3 linked regions of the Homo sapiens genome follow. The protein of the gene in region 1 purifies or fractionates together with the protein of each later gene. This does not show direct contact. Each region holds a gene or a part of one and is shown on either strand. Other genes may lie near its edges.

What was found. Proteins that work in one complex are often made in the same cells at the same time.
Region 2: the proteins of VTCN1 (region 1) and NUP210 purify together in Homo sapiens (affinity purification with mass spectrometry, with the first as the bait; one large-scale study listed by BioGRID). This does not show direct contact.
Region 3: the proteins of VTCN1 (region 1) and ALG1 purify together in Homo sapiens (affinity purification with mass spectrometry, with the first as the bait; one large-scale study listed by BioGRID). This does not show direct contact.

What each region holds. Positions count from the first base shown.
Region 1 is NC_000001.11:117,148,428-117,151,927, reverse strand, and holds part of VTCN1 (V-set domain-containing T-cell activation inhibitor 1 isoform 1 precursor), read left to right. Parts: intron 1-3,500. UniProt on the Homo sapiens protein: Negatively regulates T-cell-mediated immune response by inhibiting T-cell activation, proliferation, cytokine production and development of cytotoxicity.
Region 2 is NC_000003.12:13,319,323-13,322,822, reverse strand, and holds part of NUP210 (nuclear pore membrane glycoprotein 210 precursor), read left to right. Parts: intron 1-483; coding exon 484-630; intron 631-987; coding exon 988-1,238; intron 1,239-2,843; coding exon 2,844-3,060; intron 3,061-3,497; coding exon 3,498-3,500. UniProt on the Homo sapiens protein: Nucleoporin essential for nuclear pore assembly and fusion, nuclear pore spacing, as well as structural integrity.
Region 3 is NC_000016.10:5,078,343-5,081,842, forward strand, and holds part of ALG1 (chitobiosyldiphosphodolichol beta-mannosyltransferase), read left to right. Parts: intron 1-414; coding exon 415-536; intron 537-721; coding exon 722-760; exon of another isoform or gene 761-764; intron 765-1,405; coding exon 1,406-1,465; intron 1,466-2,603; coding exon 2,604-2,714; intron 2,715-3,500. UniProt on the Homo sapiens protein: Mannosyltransferase that operates in the biosynthetic pathway of dolichol-linked oligosaccharides, the glycan precursors employed in protein asparagine (N)-glycosylation.

The sequences.
Region 1 (3,500 bases):
CAATGAGATATCACCTAATGCCCATTAGGGTGGCTACTCTAAAAACAAAATAAGGCAAAAACAGAAAATAACATGTTGGTGAGGATGCGGAAAAATTGGAACCCTCATGCACTGTTGGTGGGACTGTAAAATGGTGCAACTTCTATAGAAAATAGTATAAAGTGTCATCAAAACAATTAAAAAAAAGAACTACTGAGATATGGAGCCAGCCGGACTTCGTGGGTCGAGTGGGGACTTGGAGAACTTTTCTGTCTAGCTAGAGGATTGCAAATGCACCAATCAGCACTCTGTCTAGCTAAAGGATTGTAAATGCACCAATCAGCACTCTGTAAAAATGAACCAATCAGCACTCTGTAAAATGGACCAATCAGCGCTCTGTAAAATGGACCAATAGGCAGGAAGTGGGCGGGGCCAAATAAGGGAATAAAAGCTGGCCACTGGAGCCAGCAGCAGCAACCCGGTAGGGCTGCTGTCTGTGATGTGCAGGGTTTGGTGTTTTGCTGTTCACAATAAATCTTGCTGCTGCTCACTCTTTGGGTCCACACTAGCTTTAAGAGCTGTGACTCTCACTGCGAAGGTCTGCAGCTTCATTCCTGAAGTCAGTGAGACCACAAACCCACTGGGAGGAACAAACAACTCCAGATGCACCATATCTGAACATCTGAAGGAACAAACTCCGGACACACCATCTTTAAGAATTGTAACACTCTCCAAAAAAAAAAAAAAAGAACTGTAACACTCAGGTTGGGCATGGTGGCTCACACTTACACTATCATATGATCTAACAGTCCTGCTTCTGGGTATGCCTTCAAAAGAATTCAGAGTCTGAATGAGATATTTGAACACCCATGGTCACAGTAGCACTATTCACCAAAGTCAAGAGATAGAATCAACCCAAAATGTCCATTAGTAGATGAGTAGATAAACAAAATATGGTATACACATACAATAGAATACCATTCAGGCTCAAAAAGGAAGGAAATCCTATCATATGCTATGACATGAATGAACTTTCAGGACATTATCTATGTGAAATAAGCCAGTCACAAAAAGACAAATACTATATGATTTAAACAAAGCATCTAAAGCAGTCAAATGCACAGAAACAGAAAGTAGAATGGTGGTTAGCAGAGGGCAGGGTGGAAGAGTTGAAGGAGAAAGGTTTTTGTTTAATGAGTATAGAGTTTCAGATTTGCAAAATGAAAAAGTTCTAATGATTTGTTTTATAACAACGTGGATATACTTAACACTACTGAACTGTACACTTAAAAATGCTTAAGATGGTAAATTTTGTTGTTTTTACTGCAATTTTTAAAAAGTATCTAACTAAAAAATTACATATGAGAGCGAGAGCTCTTGCACCATCTTGAGGAACAAATTGGCAACTATCCTGGTTAGGATTATTAGTTGCCTGTAACAGAAAACCAATATAAATAAATCTAGTCTGAAAGGGAAGTGTAGGAAGTGTACTAGAATGTTGTGGAACCAAAGACAGGAAGTTCAGTTGACTTCAGGATCAACTGGAACCAGGAACTTAAATCCCATTGAGATTCTTTTTCTCTCATTTCTACTTAATTCTCTCTTTACTCTCTTGTTTTAGTCCATATGGCAAGACGTGATTGCCAAGCATTCCTATATTTAAAAATCTCTTACTCAAGAGAGTGGTGAGACTGAACCTCAATTCATCAGTCTCATTCTACATTCCCAAGAAGGACTTTGACTCCACTTGGGTCAGCTGCCCATACCTAGGCCAATGAGGCAGTATCTGATGAAAGGCCTTCCCAGAAGAGAAGGAGGGACTGAAGTATTGGTCATTTAAAACAATGGGTGCTGACAACAGTATCTCAGTCCAGTTCCCAGTAAAAAGCTCCAAGCTGTGTAAATAATGTCTTCTAGTAGCAAGGGCCACAACTGAACAAGACATAGACATTGAGCACACCTTTTATTCAATTAACAGATCTGTCTTCTTTACATGTTTGTTGGATACATCAAAACAAGTGTTCGAAGTGTCAGGCTAGGATGAAATACAACTTTTGGTAGCTCAAAATTAAGAAAATAGCAGAATTTCTTATTGTTGTAGACAAAGTAGGTGCTCCATGCATGTTTTTAAACAAGTAGGGCCATGGGATTTACATATTGTGTTCTCTGCCTATACTGCTAATTTAGGTCATTCATTTAACAAATATCTATTGTGTGCCAAGTATGTTCAGAGTACTTTTTTAAGCCCCCTGAGATACTGAAATGAATAGCATAAGTATCAAAAGAGAAGTTAATCACAGTGTAGATTTAGTACCTATGGGAAAGAGTTGTTAATTATGACTGAAGTGGATCCATAGATAAGGCAGAGTTCCGGCTGGGTTTTGAAGAAGAAAAAAAATGGTTTGGATAAAATGGGAAGACCTGAAGTCAGGAGCTTACAGTAATGGTCTGGGGGAGAAATTATGAGAGTATTAACTGGAGCAGGGGCAATGGGAAAGAAAAGGGGGAAGAATCAAAAGTTGCATAAACAAAATAATGTACAGTCCTTGGTGATGCAAATGTGAAAGTCAAGAGAAATCACAAGTCAAAGTGGGTTTGATATTTCTACCCAGGATACTTAGGAGGTTGGTGATGCTACCAGAAAAAAAAAAAAAACCCACCCCAAAACATAGGAGCAATATGTGTGGGGAGTAGATAAGGGTTTTAGAGATGTCGAGTTTGAAATGCCCATAGTGTACCCAGGTAGAGATGCCCAGTGCTTAGCACAATAGCCAGCATGTGATAGGTTTTGGGGAGAACACTACACCCTTACTCCATATATTTCCTTTTATGAGAAGGGATCCCCACCAGTGTCATCTTTTTAGCCTCTCTCTTCCTCCCTCTTTCACTCTTCCTGAGAGAACAAGGAATTAATTTATCTGATTGATGAGTATATTAGGAGCAGCTGGACATAAGTAGCTCAGCTCCTCCTTTTTCTTTTTGTTTTTGCTAACTCTCAGGAAGCCCGTGTACATTCTGCTGTGCTCCTGCAGGCCGTCAGTTGTTCAGGGGTAGAATCTGCTCCTGCAGGAGACTTGCACCAGTCTGGTTCTGTCTGACAGTGGGGAGTCTCGGCTGTAGCCCACTTGCCTAACTACAAAGCCTCATTCTCTATTAACATATTTTCAGCACTAAAGGTGATATTTTGATCTTCCAGTTGCCTTATTTTTTTGTCCTTCTCTTTAATTGGTTCAGAGCTAAGCTGGGGAAGAGGCTGTTATTTATTGGACTTCTTTGAACCCCAATAGTAGGTACTCAGAAATATTTACTGAATAATTATGTTTTTAAATGACATATCTAGCAGCAACTGGAAATCTAGATGTGGAACTCAAGACAGAGTTCAAACTAAGGAGGTAGACTTGGAAATGACTAGCATGAAAGTGATATTTATTAGGCTTGAGTGATGTTGGCTTTATTGTCGTTTTTACAGCCAGTACTTATGGAGTGCTTATTATAGGCCAGACACTGTTCTAAGTGCTTTG
Region 2 (3,500 bases), on another chromosome or scaffold:
GCACCGCCCTTCTCGTCCTGATTAACGAGGCAGCTCTGTTCCATCATGGCAGCCTCTGCTCCTTCCTCAGCGCAAGTGGACAGCACTGTGCCGTTGCCTAAATGCTGCTCAGATGTTAGTGGAGAACTAGTGCCCTCTGAATGTGCAGAAGTAAATTGCCGTTTCCCCTGCTGACAGGGACAGAAGACAGGCATTAGTGGGCCTAGCCCGTCTGCCGTGCCCCTGGATGCAAGGTCTGGAACAAATGCTGAAATTCTGACTTGAAGCTCCCTGTGATGCCGATGGCATCCTCTTCCATATGATATGTCCTTGGCTTTACCAATCCTGGCTGCATCTCAAAGCTTTGAGCCGCCCTGGGGCCCTGCTGGAAGACATGCAGGGGCAGGTGGCATTTGCAGCCCAGCCAGCCTGTGCAGGCCTGGTGGAATTTGGTGTGGTGGCCATCGGGCCTGGCCCACACCCTCTCGTCTCTCCCCTCTCTAGGCGAGTGCACCCCCACCCAGAGGGAAGTCATCCAGGCCTTGCACCCAGAGACCCTCATCAGCTGCCAGTCCCAGTTCAAGCCGGCCGTCTTTGATTTCCCATCTCAAGATGTGTTCACCGTGGAGCCACAGTTTGACACTGCTCTCGGTAATTGCGAGGATTTGAAAGTGAAAGGGACTTGGAGACAGTCTCTGTCTTCTGGGCATCTTGCGGCTTCCACGTGCCCAGCTCACCATGGCCGTCTGTCCAGAGGGCAGAGATTGTCAGGAGCCCAGCCTGGGGATTGACGCCAGGGGGACTTGGGAGGACTGCTGGTCACAGAGGGTATCCTAGCTTGGCCAAGGCCTTTATAGGGGATTCCCAGGAGGACTCCTGGAGGAGGTGACTTCTCACCTGGGCTTTGGAGGATGCATAGGAATCCCCTGGTTAGAGAAGCAGGGAGAAGAAATGACATCAGTGCACGGGCAGGAGAGGGGACAAGACAATACACCCTTGTCTTCGCAGGCCAGTACTTCTGCTCAATCACAATGCACAGGCTGACGGACAAGCAGCGGAAGCACCTGAGCATGAAGAAGACAGCTCTGGTGGTCAGTGCCTCCCTCTCCAGCAGCCACTTCTCCACAGAGCAGGTGGGGGCCGAGGTGCCCTTCAGCCCAGGTCTCTTCGCCGACCAGGCTGAAATCCTTTTGAGCAACCACTACACCAGTTCCGAGATCAGGGTCTTTGGTGCCCCGGAGGTTCTGGAGAACTTGGAGGTGAGTGGCATCTGCATGCCTCAGGCCAGGCCGGAGTCAGGGGCATCAGGAAGGCCCTGGAGGAAGAGGGAATGTGGTGTGGATGTCCTGGGCCAGCTCTCTTTAAAATTTATTTTTACAATTAGAATTTTTAAATTGAAGTACTCTTTTCTTTTTCCATAGCACTGTTGCTGTCTCTCAGGCTGCGTGATTGTATTAATTGTTCTGACCGCTGCTGGTCTTCCCCAGCTACAAGTTAAGCTTGTGGGGGCAGCAGTGAGAACCCCAGAAAAGGTGCCAGTGAGCGTGTGGTGCGTGGCATCGCAGAATTCAGTGCAGGAGCATCTGCCACAGAGCAGGGAGGAAAGCCCTAATCCCTGCTGGGACAAGTCCCCTCTCTCCAGGCCTCACTTCCCCCATGACTAAGTCACGGGGTGGGATTGGTGGGTGAATGATCCCTCAGGCCCAGAGCCTGGCAGGCTGGGAAGAGTTCGGGGGTGAGAGAACCAAGGAGTTCCTCGGCATTTCCGCCTGCTCCTCCTGCCTTGCTGCAGCCAGCGTGATCGCATGTTCTGCAGAGGCAGGGAATGCTCAGCATCGCTGATGAGGGAGGAGGGCCAGCCCGCTGGCGGCGTGAGCAGAGCTCGGGCTGCTACCTTGGAGAGCTGGTGCTTGGTGATACTTCATGTTGGTTTAGCCTTTTTTTTTTTTTTTGAGATGGAGTCTTGCTCTGTCGCCCAGGCTGGAGTGCAGTGGCGCAATCTGGGCTCACTGCAAGTTCTACCTCCCAGGTTCATGCCATTCTCCTACCTCAGCCTCCCAAGTAGCTGGGACTATAGGTGCCTGCCACCACACCTGGCTAATTTTTTTTTAGTAGAGACGGGGTTTCACCATGTTAGCCAGGATGGTCTCGATCTCCTGACCTTGTGATCTGCCCACTTTGGCCTCCCAAAGTTTTTTTTTTTTTTTTTTTGAGACGGAGTCTCGCTCTGTCGCCCAGGTTGGAGTGCAGTGGCACTATCTTGGCTCACTGCAATCTCCACCTCCCGGGTTCATGCCATTCTCCCACCCTTGCCTCCTGAGTAGCTGGGACTACAGGCGCCTGCCACCACATCCGGCTAATTTTTTGTTTTTTTAATAGAGACAGGGTCTCACCGTGTTAGCCAGGCTGGTCTCGATCTCCTGACCTCATGATCTGCCCGCCTCAGCCTCCCAAAGTGTTGAGATTACAGGCGTGAGCAACCGCGCCCAGCCTGGTTTAGCCTTTTTGTAAGCAGCAGTTGATTAGAATTAAATGAGCTTGAATTTGATTCTGACATTCATATTGATTTGTCCTTCCCTCAAAAAACACCCTGAGTATGGACAGGGCTTCCCGACTCTGCAGAGTACACGCCGTCCATGAGCAGTGCCCAGGTGTCATTACCTGCCCATGAGATGTGACCTGGGCAGGGGTCCCCACCTGTACCCTTGGGCCCCAGGAGGGAAGCCCAGCATGTCAGGCTGAAGCGGGGGTGCTTCCAGAGATGGCCATGCAGAGCAGCCCTCCCGCCTCGGGGTCCTGAGGCCCCGCTCAGTGGTCCCCCCACTCTGCAGAATGTGCACCCCCAGCTCTGATGTCTCTTCCAGGTGAAATCCGGGTCCCCGGCCGTGCTGGCATTCGCAAAGGAGAAGTCTTTTGGGTGGCCCAGCTTCATCACATACACGGTCGGCGTCTTGGACCCCGCGGCTGGCAGCCAAGGGCCTCTGTCCACTACCCTGACCTTCTCCAGCCCCGTGACCAACCAAGCCATTGCCATCCCAGTGACAGTGGCTTTTGTGGTGGATCGCCGTGGGCCCGGTCCTTGTGAGTCACGGAACGACATCATCTGGGACAGACCAGGATGGGGAGGGACAGGCAGGAGTGGTCCTGGCTATCAGTAGAAACCTGAGGTGTAAGAAATGGAGGAGTCAGAAATGCAGAATGTCCCTCAAAGTGATCGCTGCTCATTGGGGCCATGATGCAGGCTTTAGTTGCCCAGCTTTCCCATCTGTTCTCAACATGGCAGCCACAGGGGCTGTGCCCCTCTGCTCAGCAGCCTGCGCCAGGAGAAGAAGTGCCAGGGTACCAAGAACAGCTGTGGGCCCGGGCCTCCAGCAGGTGGCCTGGCCCTCTGAGACCACCATCCTTACATCTAAGAGGGACCTGTGGACTGCCCTGTAGACGTACAGTAGGGCAGGAACGTGATGGGATGCCACAGTGGGCCTGGTGGTTTTGGTAACTCATCTTCCCATTGATGGCAGATG
Region 3 (3,500 bases), on another chromosome or scaffold:
TTCCCAGGCCTGTGGCAGGATCTGTGGACCTGTGTGTCCCCTGGGGTGTCTCATGGGGCTAAGGAGGGGACCTTTGTGCAGGTCTACGCACCCTGAGGTGTGCCCTGGGTAAGCTGGGGTGGTGTGGGAGGGCGTCCCTGCACCCTCATCTTGAGTCCAGGGGATGATAAGACAGTAAGTCCCGTGGAGAAAAGGAATGAGTCAGTCTTGTTTGCTGTTGTAACCTTAGCACCCAGCAACAATATTAGAGAAAGCAAGCCCAGGCCTCAGATGGCAGGGGTGGCCTGGTGCTGCTGATGTGGCTGGGCACCCCAACCTCTGGGAGCCTGCAGGCCTCGCCACGGCAGGAGATGCCTCTCCTGGGTCCCGGGCCTGCTCTATGGCCTCTCACAGGCTTTTTTTCTGCTCCTTCAGCTCAGAACCTGAGGACCCAGTCACGGAGCGGTCGGCCTTCACGGAGCGGGATGCTGGGAGCGGGCTGGTGACGCGTCTCCGTGAGCGGCCAGCCCTGCTGGTCAGCAGCACGAGCTGGACAGGTCTGCAGGACCCCTGGGGCACTTGGGGTTGGTGTGACGGGCACCTGGCCAACCTGTGTTCTCCTCACCCCTGCCAGTCCTGCATGCTCCCACCCTGCCACGGTCTCAATGAGAACGGGAGGGCCTGTGAGCTGGAAGAGGGGTGTCTAGAAACAGGCCCCTGACATTCAATTCTCTTCTCATAGAGGACGAAGACTTCTCCATCCTGCTGGCAGCTTTAGAAAGTAGGTGTGTGGCTGCGGTGAGGAGCTCTGGGCTTGTCGGGGGCCACTGAGCTGTAAGCTGCTTGCCTGGCCTGCAGCATGTTCCTGTCCCAGGCCACTGGGTGGGGCAGCCTGGGGACAGCGGGGGTGGTGGAAGTGGGCCGCCCTGAATCCCCAGTTGGGTCATTGAGTGACCAGGCCCTCAGGCTGAAATGCCCCCTCCAGGAGAGTATCTCACACAGGCTGGTGGCCTCCCCGCCAGAGCAGTGCTCTTTCTCCACCTGACCAGGTGACTCTGGCTATTGTTTATTTAAAAATTTTTTTCTGAATGGGCATGGTGGCTCAAACCTGTAATCCTAGAACTCTGGGAGGCCGAGGCAGGCAGATCATCTGAGGTCAGGAGTTCGAGACCAACCTGGCCAACAGGGCGAAACCTGTCTCTACTAAAAATACAAAAATTAGCTAGGTATGGTGGTGGGCGCCTGTCATCCCAGCTACTTGGGAGGCTGATGCACGAGAATTACTTGAACCCAGGAGGCAGAGGTTGCAGTGAGCTGAGATCGCGCCATTGCATTCCAGCCTGGGTGACAGAGTGAGAGTCTGTCAGAAAAAAAAAAAAATTCTATCAGAAATTCCATGTAGAATTGTTTCTTTTTCTAAACACAGAGTTTGAACAACTGACTCTTGATGGACACAACCTTCCTTCTCTCGTCTGTGTGATAACAGGTACTGCCTGGGACCCTGGGTGTCTGTTTGGTTGGGGGATGGCGGAGGGGGAGGGGCACGCAGCCTTTACCCTGTGCTTCCCATGATCTTGTCTCCTTAATCCTCACTGCAGCTCTGCCATAGGGTCTTATACTGCTTGACATGGGGGAAACTGAGGCTCAGAGGCAGGGCAGGGAGCCCAGATTTGAATCTGTAGATACCAAGCTTTCTACTTTTTCAGTAGTTTCCAAGCATCTTTTTTTTGTTGTTGTTACGTCATTGGTGTCTTTTTTTTTTTTTTTTGAGACAGAGTCTCTGTCGCCCAGGCTGGAGTGCAGTGGTGCGATCTCGGCTCACTGCAACCTCCGCCTCCCACATTCAAGCAATTCTCATGCCCCAGCCTCCCGAGTGGCTGGGACTACAGGTGCCCACCACAACTGCCTAATTTTTGTATTTTTAGTAGAGACAGGGTTTCACCATGTTGGCCAGGCTGGTCTTGAACTCCTGACCTCAGGTGATCCACCCGCCTTGGCCTCCCAATATGCTGGAATTACAGGCACAAATCACTGTGCCCGGCCATGTCATTGGTGCCTTAACCAAGCCTCTTAATTTTTCAAACGGAAGAGCCCCTGTCCCACAGTTACTGCTGCTGAGCCCTTTCAAGGTGACTCAGTGAGGAGGGAGAAAAGCGGAAGCGGTGTGGGAAGAGGCCGGGTCTGGGCCAGCTGCTGGTCCTGCTCTCCTCCCTCCTCTGGCCTCTAGGCTCCCAGGAGTGGTTTGGAACCCGCGCCATATGCTCTGGGGGCTGTGCCAGGGCAGGAGGAGTCCTCGTGTCCCCTGTGCACAACACAGACAAAAGGCTGGGTCCACCCAGTGGGCGGTCGGGTGCCAGGCCAGTGCTTACCCCGCCATGTTTGCAGCCCGAGGCCAGCTGGCTGCAGGTGAAAGGCTATGCGTCAGGGGTCAGGGTGCACACACCCCTGCAGGTCTCAGGGCTCCTGGGTTGCTTCTGGAAGGGCCCGGATGGGGCCTGACTGGAGCTGCTGAGGGGTGGAGCTTCTGGGAAAGGGATCCCTCCTAGGGGGGAGTGTCTTGGGCCTGGGGCCACGTGGCAGGGACAGAGATGGGTCCATGGCAGTGTCTGCTCTTCTCTGTGAAGGCAAAGGGCCTCTGAGGGAGTATTATAGCCGCCTCATCCACCAGAAGCACTTCCAGCACATCCAGGTCTGCACCCCCTGGCTGGAGGCCGAGGACTACCCCCTGCTTCTAGGTGAGAGGCCAGCAGGAGGCTCAGGGAGGAGGCGGGGGGAACAGGGTGGGCGGGATGTACTTTTTCTGAAAAGGTGGCTCTGGAGGCCACTGGGGGACGGGACCTGGGCTCTGGCTGAACTCCCAGGAGGAGGCTACTTCCTGGTGTGCCAGCCCCTCCCTGCCAGGTGGCCCCAGGGGCCGTTTACCAAGGGGTTTGAGGAGGCCACGTCCTTTCAGCCTGCCACGCCCTCCATTCAGTCCTCTTCCTTCCTGCAGGAGGGCTGGGCCTGGGGTTGGGGCCACTGTTGCCCAGGTGTGGGAGGGCAGTGGCTTTGGGAGGTACGGGGACGATGTGTCAAACAGCGTCGCCTCTCCCAGTGAGATGGTTCTCCTTTGCCTCCGTCTCTTTCCCCGTTGATTTCTCCAAGTGGGGAGTCGTGCCTTGGTCCTGATGCGTCTCTAGAGCTGCATCTTCCAGCTTCGAGTGAGCAGAGCAGTTGGAGGCTGAAGGCCTTTTCCTGGCAGGACTCTCCACCTAGTCTTTGTTTTAGACAGTCTCGCTCCGTTGCCTAGGCTGGAGTGCATGATCTCAGTTCATGCAACCTCTGCCTCCTGGGTTCAAGCGATTTTCCCACCTCAGCCTCCCGAGTAGATTACGGGATTACAGGAGCCCACCACAACACCTGGCTTATTTTTGTATTTTTAGTAGAGACAGGGTTTCACCATGTTGGCCAGGCTGGTCTTGAACTCCTGACCTCAAGTGATCCTCCTGCCTTGGCCTTCCTAAGTGCTTGGATTCCAGGTG